3 separate regions of the Homo sapiens genome follow, and all the other regions are linked to region 1. The links come from fine-mapping of genetic effects on gene expression. A gene starts in region 1. Each other region holds a variant in brackets. All regions are shown on one strand. Distances are from middle to middle.

The links. PIP is the estimated chance that this variant, and not a neighbour inherited with it, causes the effect. A credible set is the group of variants that fine-mapping cannot tell apart.
Region 2: its variant is the best candidate, but not a certain one, in a credible set for the expression of LINC01341 in spleen (GTEx, PIP 0.87).
Region 3: its variant is the best candidate, but not a certain one, in a credible set for the expression of LINC01341 in subcutaneous fat (FUSION, PIP 0.58).

Annotation. Positions count from the first base shown.
Region 1 is chr1:246,787,320-246,791,447 of GRCh38, reverse strand. LINC01341 (long intergenic non-protein coding RNA 1341) reads right to left here and starts at 1,831. Exons shown (of 2, transcript NR_015422.1): 1 at 1,750-1,831; 2 at 1-1,002. RefSeq lists a silencer at 2,511-2,590.
Region 2 is chr1:246,818,176-246,822,303 of GRCh38, reverse strand. No RefSeq gene overlaps it. Among named protein-coding and RNA genes, the nearest start is that of LINC01341, 31 kb to the right of the region's middle. The variant C/A (reference allele first, on the strand shown) is at 2,436.
Region 3 is chr1:246,824,231-246,828,358 of GRCh38, reverse strand. No RefSeq gene overlaps it. Among named protein-coding and RNA genes, the nearest start is that of LINC01341, 37 kb to the right of the region's middle. The variant A/TA (reference allele first, on the strand shown) is at 2,116.

The DNA of each region.
Region 1 (4,128 bases):
CTGGGCCCCATGCAAAAAAGGGTTTGGATGCACACGGGTCTCCACATCCAGAACATTCCATGATGGCCAAGGAGTGCAGGAACATGGAACATGCTAAGGCAGGGAGCCAGTCATTCAGGACACACAGATGACATCGGTGCAGGGGAGCAGGGCGGGGAGAGGGGATGCCAACCTGACACCCCGACGTCCAGCCCCAAATCCTATAAGGTCTGAATTTATACGGCGAGGGCGCAGAAACAGATCAAAACGTACCCGGAGTAGGTGAGGCTCGTTAAGAGTCGCCTCCTGAGCGTCTCTTCTGAAGCTTGCTTGCTGCCATCTTCCCACCACCCCATCCCGCTGGCCTGGGAGCGGGAGGACTCCAGTGTGGCCTTGGCCGGCTCCCCGCAGTGCTAGGCCCTCAGCTGGTGTTCGTTCTGTTAATGAAGCCCTTGCCTGCTGTCTCCCAGCTCCCCGTGCTCCCCAAGGGCAGGGTCCTTCTGCGCCCGCTGCTGTCCCCATGCATCATGGGCCACAGCACACAGGAGGCCCCGAGATGCCACCTGCCATCCTCCGCAGCTGTAGACCTTCCCTCCTGTGCACATGAGAAAGGTCAGCCTACCTGCTCACGGAAACCGCCGTTTGCTGGGTGTCTTTGACTCTCATCTTCTTAGAATTTCAGATAAACACGCTTCCTTCACAAATGCCGACGGTAAAGTGACGGTCACTCCACATAGCAAATGCAAGGTTGCCGTTAACGGGGTGCCCATCACCACCAGGACAAAGCTGCAGCATTTGGTAAACTTTCCTGCAGGCTCACAGAATGTCCTAGGTCCCCCCCAAGAGCTGGGAGGGGACAGTCATGTGAGGTGCCCACATCACAGACGTGGCAGGATGGGGCGTTCACACCAGCTCCTCTGCCACCATGGCTTGGGGACAACATGGCACCACTGCTGGAGGGACAGGCCTGCTCCTGACTCACTGTGTGGTCTTGGGCAAGTCACTTCACTCCTCTGACCTCACCTGGAAAACAAGGAGGGCTGAACTAGGTGTTCTCCAAGGTCCCTTCCAGCTCTAACATTTTGTGCCATTTTAGATTTTTCTAAGAGCCTGTCACTGAGAGGGGTTGAACAGCATCTTGCAAACATCGCTGCCTCTTCCTCCCCAATCTGCCAACCCTGGGGCCCCTGCCAGCTTCCCAGCAGCCCTCTCCCCTCCCTGGTGGCCACAGCCTTTCAGACAGGACAGGCAGATGGGGATTGGCCGCTCCCCATTTGGAAAGCCCCCTCAGTGACCTCCCTCGGCCTCCTGTCCCTGGCCACACTGCCCTTCTTTTGGTTGTTCAGCAGCCGTCTCTGCCTCACCAAGACTTACCGCCCAGGAGGGCTTAGCTTGGGCATCACGCCTCGGAAAAGGCCGTCTGTAGCCTGTAGTCTGAGTTAGGTCCTGGTGTCCCCTGCAGCCATTGCTGCACTCACCCAGACCAGCCTGGAAAGCGTGGAGGGAGGGCCTGGCTCTGGGTGGTCCCCACAGAACCCCAGGGCCAAGGGAGTCACGCCCTCAATGTGTGCAATGAAGGTGAACGCAGGAGCCAGAGGCCACCTCCCTCCTGTCTGCGTCTCTCCCTGTCTGGGGGATTCCTGAGGGGAGGACATTCCTCAGATCCTTCTCACTGGGGAGGTTCACCTCACCCTCCTTGGCCTCGAACCCCTCCTGAGCCCACCGTCTCCTCCCCAGGACCGCCTGATTTTGGGATCCAACAGCACCTACCTGTACGTGGGGTTTCCTTCGGAGTGGGGCAGTGAGGACCTGAGCAGGTTCGATTACGACTTCTTCCAGCTGGAGAGGGCGGCTGCGGAGGGAGCGAGTGCAGACAAACTCGGTGAGCCCCCTCCTGACTGCTGGCCTCTCCCGTGTGCTGATCTGAGAGCAGCGATTTCACACTGTGTCTCTCTGCTTTCCTTAAGAACATCATCATTTGTTTTGTCAAAGTCTGATGTTTACAAAATTGAATTATGATTTCCATATAGAGTGACTACATGGTAAACATTCAACTCGTTAAACGTTCCCTGAGGAATGAGGGTAAAGATGGTTCAAAGGGGTAGAGAAGAGAGTGGGGTACCCAGCAAATGAGAGAAGAATGCTGAGCTGGAGAAGCCAGTTAGTGGCCTCCGGCCGCCCCCAGGGGCCTGCTGGGCCTGCAGAAGCAGTGGCCCAACTCCAGAGGGGCCGGCTGGGGCCTGCTGTGGGCTGCAAATGCGCGGCCCGGAAGAACGTGCAGCCCGAGGCCTCTGAGACAGAATCTCCCCTCCTCGCCCGAACGCAGCCCCCAGCAGTAGCCCACGCGGGCCGCCCGCCGCTGCCGGTCTCTGCTGGGGCTTTCGCGCGCCTTCCCCGCCCCTCTCCCCGCCCCGATTCACCGCGCTCCGGGCGGCTCCCCCAGAATCCTGGCCAGGCCGGAGCCCGCTGCGATCTGAGTGACCTGCGGGCTTCCCGGAGGGGCCCCACGCTTTGCTCGGCACCGGGACTCTGCCTGAACTCGCAGTAATGAAACCGCTGGTGGAAAGTGGGCAGATCCACCTGTGTGTGTGCAAGAGCTCCTCCCTGTCCCCACACCACAGTGTTTCTCTCAGAATTTCAGCAAAATAAATCGATTAGAAATTCACCTCCTTGCTCTTCTTCTGCTGAAGTTTTCGACTTTTAAAAATGAACAAGGCCGGGCGCGGTGGCTCACGCCTGTAATCCCAGCCCTTTGAGAGGCCGAGGCGGGCAGATCACGAGGTCAGGAGATCGAGACCATCCTGGCTAACACAGTGAAACCCCGTCTCTACTAAAAATACAAAAAAGTAGCCGGATGTGATGGCACACACCTGTAGTCCCAGCTACTCAGGAGGCTGAGGCAGGAGAATTGCCTGAACCTGGGAGGAGGAGGTTGCAGTGAGCTGAGATCGTGCCACAGCACTCCAGCCTGGGTGACAGAGCGAGACTCCATTTCAAAACAAAACAAAACAAAACAAAACAACGAACCAGTAAGACTCTGTCATACCAGGCCCGGAAAAGCCATCTGTTCATTGACCTGTCCTCAGAGGTTGACCGTGCCACTGCCCCTGTGGCCCTGGTGGCGCCATGAAGCTGAACCAGCCCCAGACCCTGGCTCGGACCCTAGGGAAGACTTGGGTCCCCAACAAGGCAGCAGCTGTGTGAGCAGTTTGGGGTCAGACCTCAGGGCCAAGGGCACTGTGTGCACCCACAGGCCAGGGGTCTCTAAGAGTTGAGATTTCCTGATTAGAGGCAGTACCAGCCTGGGTTTGGGAGGGAGATTGATCCTCCCATAATCTCCACGAGCCCCTCCTTCAAGCCACCCCAAGTATAAGAGAAGCACAGGTCACTTGCTGTGCCAGCAGCAGCTTGAGGATACCTCCAGGCCTTCCGTCTAGCCAGCCATGTTTCACCTCGCCCCACCCTCCTCCAGTCTGGAGCCACCTTGGGTCAAGGACCCTGAGACCAAGAATGGGAACTGGGGGCAGAGGACCTCCTGCCTGCGGCCAGGATTCATGGGTCGAGATAAGCAACCACGTAAGGAGAAGCCAGGCAGTGTCATTTTCCCTTGTTTGTTTTTAAATTACATGCTTGTAATTTTAAAATGTAGATATTTGATGAACAGCTGAACAAATGAATGAACAAATAAGCATACACATTTATTCATGGCGGCTGGGCGTGGTGTCTCATGCCTGTAATCCTAGCACTTTGAGAGGCCAAGGCAGGAGGATCGCTTGAACCTGGGAGTTCAAGACCAGCCTGGGAAACAAAGTGAGACCTCATCTCTACAAAATATTTTAAAAATTAGCCAGGCATGGTGGCTTGCACCCGTAGTCCCAGGTACTCAGCAGGCTGAGATGGGAGGATTGCTTGAGTCTGGGAGGTGGAGGCTGCAATGAGCAGAGATCATGCCACTGAACGCTAGCCTGGACGACAGAGCAAGACAGCTGTCTAAAAAAAAAAGAAAAAGGGCTTGGCATGGTGGCTCATGCCTGTACGCCTGTAATTCCAGCACTTTTGGAGGCCGAGGTGGGCAGATCACCTGAGGTCAGGAGTTCGAGACCAGCCTGGCCAACATAGTGAAACCCCATCTCTACTAAAAATACAAAA
Region 2 (4,128 bases), 31 kb before region 1:
TTTTTTGAGACAGAGTCTCCCTCTGTTGCCCAGGCTGGAGTACAGTGGTGCAATCTCGGCTCACTGCAACCTCCGCCTCCCAGGTCCAAGTGATTCTCCTGCCTCGGCCTCCTGAGTAGCAGAGATTACAGGCACCTGCCACCACACCTGGCTAATTTTTTGTATTTTAGTAGAGATGGGGGTTTCACCATGCTGGCCAGTCTGGTTTCGAACTCCTGACCTCAGGTGATCCACCACCTTGGCCTGCCAAAGTGCTGGGATTACAGGCATGAGCCACCGCGCCTGGCCCATATTACTTGTTTAAAGTTTTCAATCCATAAAAATTAAGCACACACACAAAATGTTTTCCGAAATCTCCAATAGCACTGAGAAAACAAAACAGCAAAACTAGTTACTTTTACTTGGTAGGCATGTGTTAGGTTTAGCACACAGCTTCTACAGTAGAGTCAACATCTGTTACACTAATATATTTCTTCTGGTAAAAGTACAGTCACAGTGTTCTGGGAAACCACTGGTGAGACTCCACATTTTAAAGTCTAGAGCTCCCCTAACCCTTTTGGTGGAATAATTTTTATCCCTTTCTCAAATATTACATGAACGTTGGTTATTGTCTATTGTCCTCATGTAAATCACACTATGTTGGTATGTGCATTTTCCCCAGAAACATGAAATAAATTATACAAATGTATATATCGTAACAAATGGAATAATGCTTAGTGCTTTACCATTGCTATTAGAGAGTAGGAAGAAATATACACTTTGAAACAGCCTCAAATAAGATAACTATTGCGGTCTATGGTCACAGCCCAGATGATAAAAGGAGGCAGACCACATCCCCTCTCTTTCAGCAACAGTGGGCACAAACATTTCTATTTTAACTTAAAAAAGGGGGATGCACGTGTGTGTGTGTGTGTGTGTGTGTGTGTGTGTGTGTGTTCCAGAACCACTGGAAAAAGCAGAAAAAGAGAAGAGCTCACTAGCAGAGGACTAAAATCAGTGTGGCTATATTGTGATGTTATTGTTTGAGTCAACGAATAAAGTAGTAGAAAATGCTTTGACTGGCTTCTGTGCCTTGATATTTTTGTCTAATTGCTTAATTTTAAAGACCTGGCCCGTGTTTTGGCAAGGCTATGAACTATGCAATTTCATGACCAACAGGGATTAGCTAGTTTAGGATGTACCCGATGTGATCCATGAATGTAAATGATGAGTGTTTTCCAAATTGACAAATCCTTTCAGTTTCACTCCACCTGTTCTAAGCCGGCATCTGAGTTGTATTTCAAGCAGGTCATACGCTATGAATCGAGGTGGGATTTATGAAAGTCAGGATACTTATTCAGATTTAAGAGGACTCAGAAAGTAGGGAAGAGGAAATCTGCATGCCACTGGCCTGTGCTGAATATGCCACCTGTCATCTTTCCAGAGAGACGTCTTCCATGACCTTGGCAGGGGAATTCTGGACAGTGCTTGGCAAGGCTATAATGCAACTCTCCTAGCCTATGGCCAAACTGGCTCTGGGAAAAGCTATTCCATGATTGGGTTTGGTGCAAACAGGGTATTATTCCAACTGTGTGTGAGGAGCTCTTTCGAGCAATCGAGAACCAGGGGAGAAATCAAGAACACCAGGTACGTATTCTCGAATCCTTTCTTTAAGGGATTGGATTTTTTCATTCTGGACCCCTTCCCCAAATGGAAGTTCTCAGCATCTCTATTTTAGGATAATGTTTGTTTTTTATACCAAAATGTTTGTATGATTACAAAATCATGTTGCAGCTAAATAAGATGTTGGATTTTTCTGGTTATATGGAGGCAAATCCAAGGAAACTCACTCTGGTGTAATATTCTAGAAGCAGACATCTTAATTGCTAACACTAACAAGGGATTATTATTGGATATTGTTATTTGGTTTATAAAACAAAACCTTAGCCGACTCACGTCTGTGGCTCCCTTTGCCACCCTCTTCTGCCAAGGCTGTGGCTCTATTCTAGTCTTAATCAACTTGTTTTTATTTCTGAAGAATATTACTTCGTTTTTAAATTGTTTTTTTACACAGAGCATAGCCTCTTACTCGCCCTAGCATACGAGACCCAAGACCAAATTTTAGATTCACTGAACGCTGGTGACATTTTCAAGGTGGAGTGTACCATTAACATAATTAGCTTTAAAACATAACAGGAAAATGTCAGCAAATGCCTATAAGCATAGTTCATGGTTCTGCTTTCTTAAAATGGTAGGACTGTTTAAGCTGGTGTTATGAAAACGCAATAGAGCATTATTTTTTATCTTATTTTTCTGATGTTAATGGTAACATGTTCAAGTTAGAGAATTTTATAATATCACCTAACTACCATTAACATTTCAGTACATTTCTAATGTTTATTCATTTAGATTTTTATATTTATATTTTGTAGAGACTGGGGTCTTGCTATGTCACC[C/A]AGGCTGGTCTCAAACTCCTGACCTCAAGCAATCCCTCCTCCTTGGCCTCCTAAAGCTCTCAGATTACAGACATGAGCCACTGTGCCCAGCCTCTAATTTTTAATTCAAATATTTTCAAAGGCATACAAGTCTAGTTTAAAACCTCAAATAGCCAAGAGAAAGAATATGTCCACACAAAAACTCGTACATGAATTTTCCACGGCAGCATATCTGTAACAGCCACGAGGTGGAAACAGCCCAAACACCCATCCACTGATGAACAGTTGAATAAAATTGGTCTATCCTTACAACGGATGATTCAGCCTTAAAAAGGAATGAAATTCTAACACATTACAATGTGGACAAACCTTGGACATGTCATTCTAAGTACAAGAAGCCAGAGAAAAAAGACCACACACTGTATAATTCCATTTGAATGAAGTTTCCAGGAGAAGCAAATCTATAGAGATAGAAAAGAAATTGGCAGCTGCCTTGGGCTGGATGTTGTAGGGAGGGGAGGGGAGGGGAGGGGAGGGGAGGTGTTACAATGGCTTGCTTGTTTTTGCCCTTTGTTTTTTGAGACACAGTCTTGCTCTGTCGCCCAGGCTGGAGTGCAGTGGCGCGATCTCGGCTCACTGCAACCTCCGCCTCCCAGATTGAAGCAATTCTTGTGCCTCGGCCTCCTGAGTAGCTGGAATTACAGGCACACGCCACCACGCCTGGCTAATTTTTTTTTGTATTTTTACTAGAGACGGGATTTCGCCATGGCCAGGCTGGTCTCGAACTCCTGGCCTCAAGTGATCCGCCCGCCTCAGCCTCCCTAAGTGCTGGAATTATAGGTGTGAGTCCCTGTGCCCCGCTTTTTTTGCCCTCTTAATGGCACCCATCTCCCCAACTTCCCAAACAAAGGCCTTGGATGTCAGTCCGCCTGCCTTGACCCTGTGCCCCCCCCACCCCATGGGCGGCCTCCCATTTTTGCTGTGTTCCTCTGGTGATGGGAACTCAATGTGCTCACCAAGCAGCCCCGGTCATCAGAAAGCTGTGTCCCTGAAGCCTTCCATCTCCCGTGCAATTCCCACAACACGCATGCGCGCGTACACTGTCATGACGCAGCGTTCTGGGCAGGGCAGAGCTGGAGCCGGCGGGTAAGGCGGTGGGGCTGGGACTGCGGAAGCACAGGGCACCTGAGCAGATCGTTCACTCCAAGGGGTCAGGAGCCTCTCAGGACAGTCCGCGTTGGGGGCACTTGGCTGGCCCCTCTGTGCTCTCCACCGAAAAAGTGACTTGATCTTTTGTAAAAACTTGTTTTTAATTTTGTATAAAATAAAGGTGGTCCATGCCCACGGGGGCTGTAGGAAATCCAAGCAGACCAGCTGGGGTGGGGGGATGTAGCCTACCTCGGGGGACTGTCTGTCCTCAAAACGGGCTGAGAAGGCCCGTCAGGGGCCCAGGTCCCACAGAGAGGCCTGGGATACTCCCCCAACCCGAGGGGCAGACTGGGCAGTGGGGAGCCCCCATTGTGCCCCAGAGGTGGCCACAGGCTGAAGGAGGGGCCTGAGGCACCGCAGCCTGCAACCCCCAGGGCTGCAGTCCACTAACTTTTTACAGAATAAAAGGAACATGGGGATGGGGAAAAAAGCACCAGGTCAGGCAGGGCCCGAGGGCCCCAGATCCCAGGAGGGCCAGGACTCAGGATGCCAGCACCACCCTAGC
Region 3 (4,128 bases), 37 kb before region 1:
GATGTTTTATTAACATCAGTTAATAAAAACATTAAAAATCCATTACTAGTAAACATACATAATATAAAAATATTTTTATGAAAAGTAATTTTTTTTATTATTTATTGATTTATTTATTTTGAGATGGAGTCTCACTCTGTCACCCAGGCTGGAGTGCAGTGGCGCAGTCTTGGCTCACTGCAACTTCTGCCTCCCAGGTTCAAGCGATTCTCCTGCCTCAGCCTCCCAAGTAGCTGGAATTACAGGTGTGTGCCACCACACCTGGCTAATTTTTGTATTTTAGTAGAGATGGGATTTCACCATGTTGGCCAGGCTGGTCTCGAACTCCTGACCTCAAGTCATCCGCCCGCCTCAGCTCCCAAAAGAGCTGGGATTACAGGTGTGAGCCATCACGCCCGATCTATTTTTATTTTTCTTTAGAGATGAGCTCTTGCTCTGTTGCCCAGCCTGGTCTCGAACTCCTAGGCTCAAATGATCCTTCTGCCTCTGCCTCCCAAAGTGATGGGATCTTAAGTGTGAAACACCATGTCAGGCCAAAAAATAGTACTCGAGCCGACACTGAAGAGAATGGCACTGCTTTCCATTTTTTGAAATCTCTGTAATGTCTGACTTCATGAAAGAGCTTGATTCTCTGCCCTGCATGTCATCTATAAAATCACGTTACATAGCCTCTGGCAAATCCCACTGCACACGTTACTCCACTCTACGCTCATGAGAGGATGAGAATGAAAAAAGCAAACATTAGTACGATCACAAAAGGAAGTGTCACTTTACAAACACCCTGAAAAGATCTCACAGACCCTGGAATGCACTGTGTGAACTGATGCCCTAGAGCAATCAATACAAAATAAATAAATAAAACAAGTATAACTAACTAATGAGTCAAGTGTGGGGAAACGGAACTATAAAACATTCTTTACCCCTCTTATCCTGCCATGTTTGGGATTTAGACACAGAGGAGATGGGATAAGTAGAATACAAATAGCAAGACAGTAGATTTAATGCCAATAATTTATATCAATTATTATGTAAAACATAAATAGTCTAAACATGACCAATTAAAAAGCAAAGATCATCAGATAAGATAGAAAAAGCAGGATCCAACTATATCTGTCTACAAAATGTGTGTGTGGGTTGGGGGTGGTTTAAGTGCTTCTGTATCACAGGATTTTTAAAAACCTGGTTTACATATTTAAAAAAAAAGCATGAAAACACTAACAAAAAAAAAAACTAGAGGCTACATTTACATCACATTGCATAGGCTTCAGAACAAGAAATATTTAATAATGAGGAAAGAGTTCATTAAGGAAACATAGCCAGCCTGAATGGGTATGTACCTAAAAAATGAGCTTTAAAGTAAACAAAGCAAAAATAGAAACAGAAAAATAGACAAATCTACAACTGTATTTAGTGATTTCAACACTCCTAGCTATCTCAGTAATTGACAAAACTGTCATATTATAGAAGAGCAGAATAATATCAACCTAATTGACAATTATATCATAAAACATGTCAACCACTTCCCACCCAACCACAGCACACGCATTCTTTCTTTGTAAGTACACACAGAACATTCATCATGATAGACAGTATTTCAGATCATAAAACTCGCCTCAATAAATGTGAGTGTAAGAGGACTGAAATTGGCTGGGCATGGTGGTGTGTGGCTATAATCCTAGCACCTCGGGAGGCCAAGACAGGTGGATCGCCGGAGCCCAGGAGTTTGAGACCAGCCTGGATAACATGACGAAAAACCGTCTCTGCTAAAAATACAAACAATTAGCTGGGCATGGTGGTGCGCGCCTGTGGTCCCAGCTACTTTGGAAGCTGAGGTGGGAGGATCACTCGAGCCCAGGAAGTCAAGGCTGCAGTGAGCCGTGATTGCACCACTGCACTCCAGCCTGGGCAATAAGAGTGAGATCCTGTCTCAAAAAAAAAAAAAAAAAAAAAAAAAAAAAAAATTGAAATCATATGAAGTATGTTTTCTGACCACACTGGAGTTAAACTAGAAGAAAAATATTTGGGAAATTCACAAGCATTTGGAAAATAGCAGACTTCTAAATAATCCATTGGTTAAAGAAAAAACCACTAGGGAAATTAGAAAACATTTTTTTT[A/TA]ACTGAATGAAAATCAAAACACTACTTACAAGGAAGAGGCCAGAGAAACAGTATTACAAAAAATAAAAAATAAGTTTAAAAAAATGTTTAAAAGACAAAAAAAAGGCAACTCAAGACACCTGTCAAAATGTGTAGAACAAGCATGGAGTATGCAGTCAGGATAGACAAATATATACACACACACACATATACACACACATACACACACACCTATACACACCTATACACACACATACACAAATATACACACACATATACACACACAAATATACACACAGATACACACACATATACACACAAATATACACACAGATACACACACATATACACAAATATACACACACAGATAACATATACACACAAATATACACACATATACACACATATACACATATACACACAGATACACATATACACACATACATATACACACAAATATACACATATACACACATACATACACACATACATATACACACATACACACAAATACACATACACACTACACATGCACACATATACACATGTACACACATACACATACACGCATACACACATATACACAAACACACAGAATACATATGCACACACATACACACATACACATACACACATACACAAACACACATACATGTATACAGATACACAAATACACAGACATACATATACATATATACAAATATACATATACACACACAAATACACACACCCATATACACACATACACACACACATATATACACACATATATTTTCATATGTGGGACGCATCTAAATGGAGCTGGGGGAGGTTTTCTAGCAGTCAAGCTTACATTAGAGAATCATCATCTCAACTTGGCATTGTAATCTTCCAGTTAAGAATTTAAAAAGAGAGCAAATTAAACATAAAACAAGCAGCAGAAGAAAAAAGATAAAAGTGATAATTAATGAAACGAAAAACAGTAAAACAATAGAGAAAAAACACTGAAACCTAAAGCTGGTTCTTTGAAAACATCCATAAAATTGATAAGCCAAATACCAAGAGCATAAGTGATCCCAGGGACATTAAAAGACTGAGAAGGCTGGGTGGCTCACAACTGCAATCCCAGCACTTTGGGAGGCTGAGGCTGGAGACTGCTTGAGGCCAGGAGCTTCAGGCCAGCCTGGGCAAATCTCCCTTTTTTAAAAAGAGTGATTAAAAATATTTTGAACAACTTAATGCCAATACATTCAACAACAAATGGACACAAGCTACTGAAGTTCATGCAAAGAAATAGATGACTCAAATAGTCCTGTATCTATTAAATAAATTGAATTTGTACCTAAAAACCTCACAAAGAAACTCCATTTCCAGGTATCTTTGCTGGTGAATTCTACCAAAGAAAGAAATAAAAAAAAAATGCAGATCATAGTAAACACTCCCATTTCATTTTACAAAGCCAGTATTCCAACAAGAGCAGCCAAAGATATTACAAAAACACTATAGGCCATTATCTTTCATGAACACAGACACAAAAATTATTATCAAAGTTTCAGCAAACACAATCGAATCATATATCGGGTGGGCCTTAATATATTACTGTCACTATCAATCAAGCCCAATCACTATCAAGTGGGCCCTTTCCTGGGAATGTAAAATTGTTTTAACATTTAAAGTTCATGATCTAGAATAGAATATAGGAGAAAAAATATGATTGGCTGCAAAAAGAATGACAAAATTTAACCCTCAATCATAAAATTCTCAACCTCTCAACAAATGAGAGGAAGTTTCCTAGAAATAGAACTTGCCTGGAAAGCAGCTTCCATCATGTTTGATGGTGAAGCAGGTGTTCTCCATAGGACGGCAGGCAAGCCAAGGGTGTCTATTCCCGTCACTGCTATACAACATTCACTACAAGTTCTAGCCAGGGCAAAGACCATTGGTAGGAAATAAGAAATACGCTGATTGAGAAGAAGTAGGCTGGGCAGGTGGCTCACGCCTTTGGGAGGCCAAGGCAGGAGGATCACTTGAGGTCAGGAGTTCCAGACCAGCAGC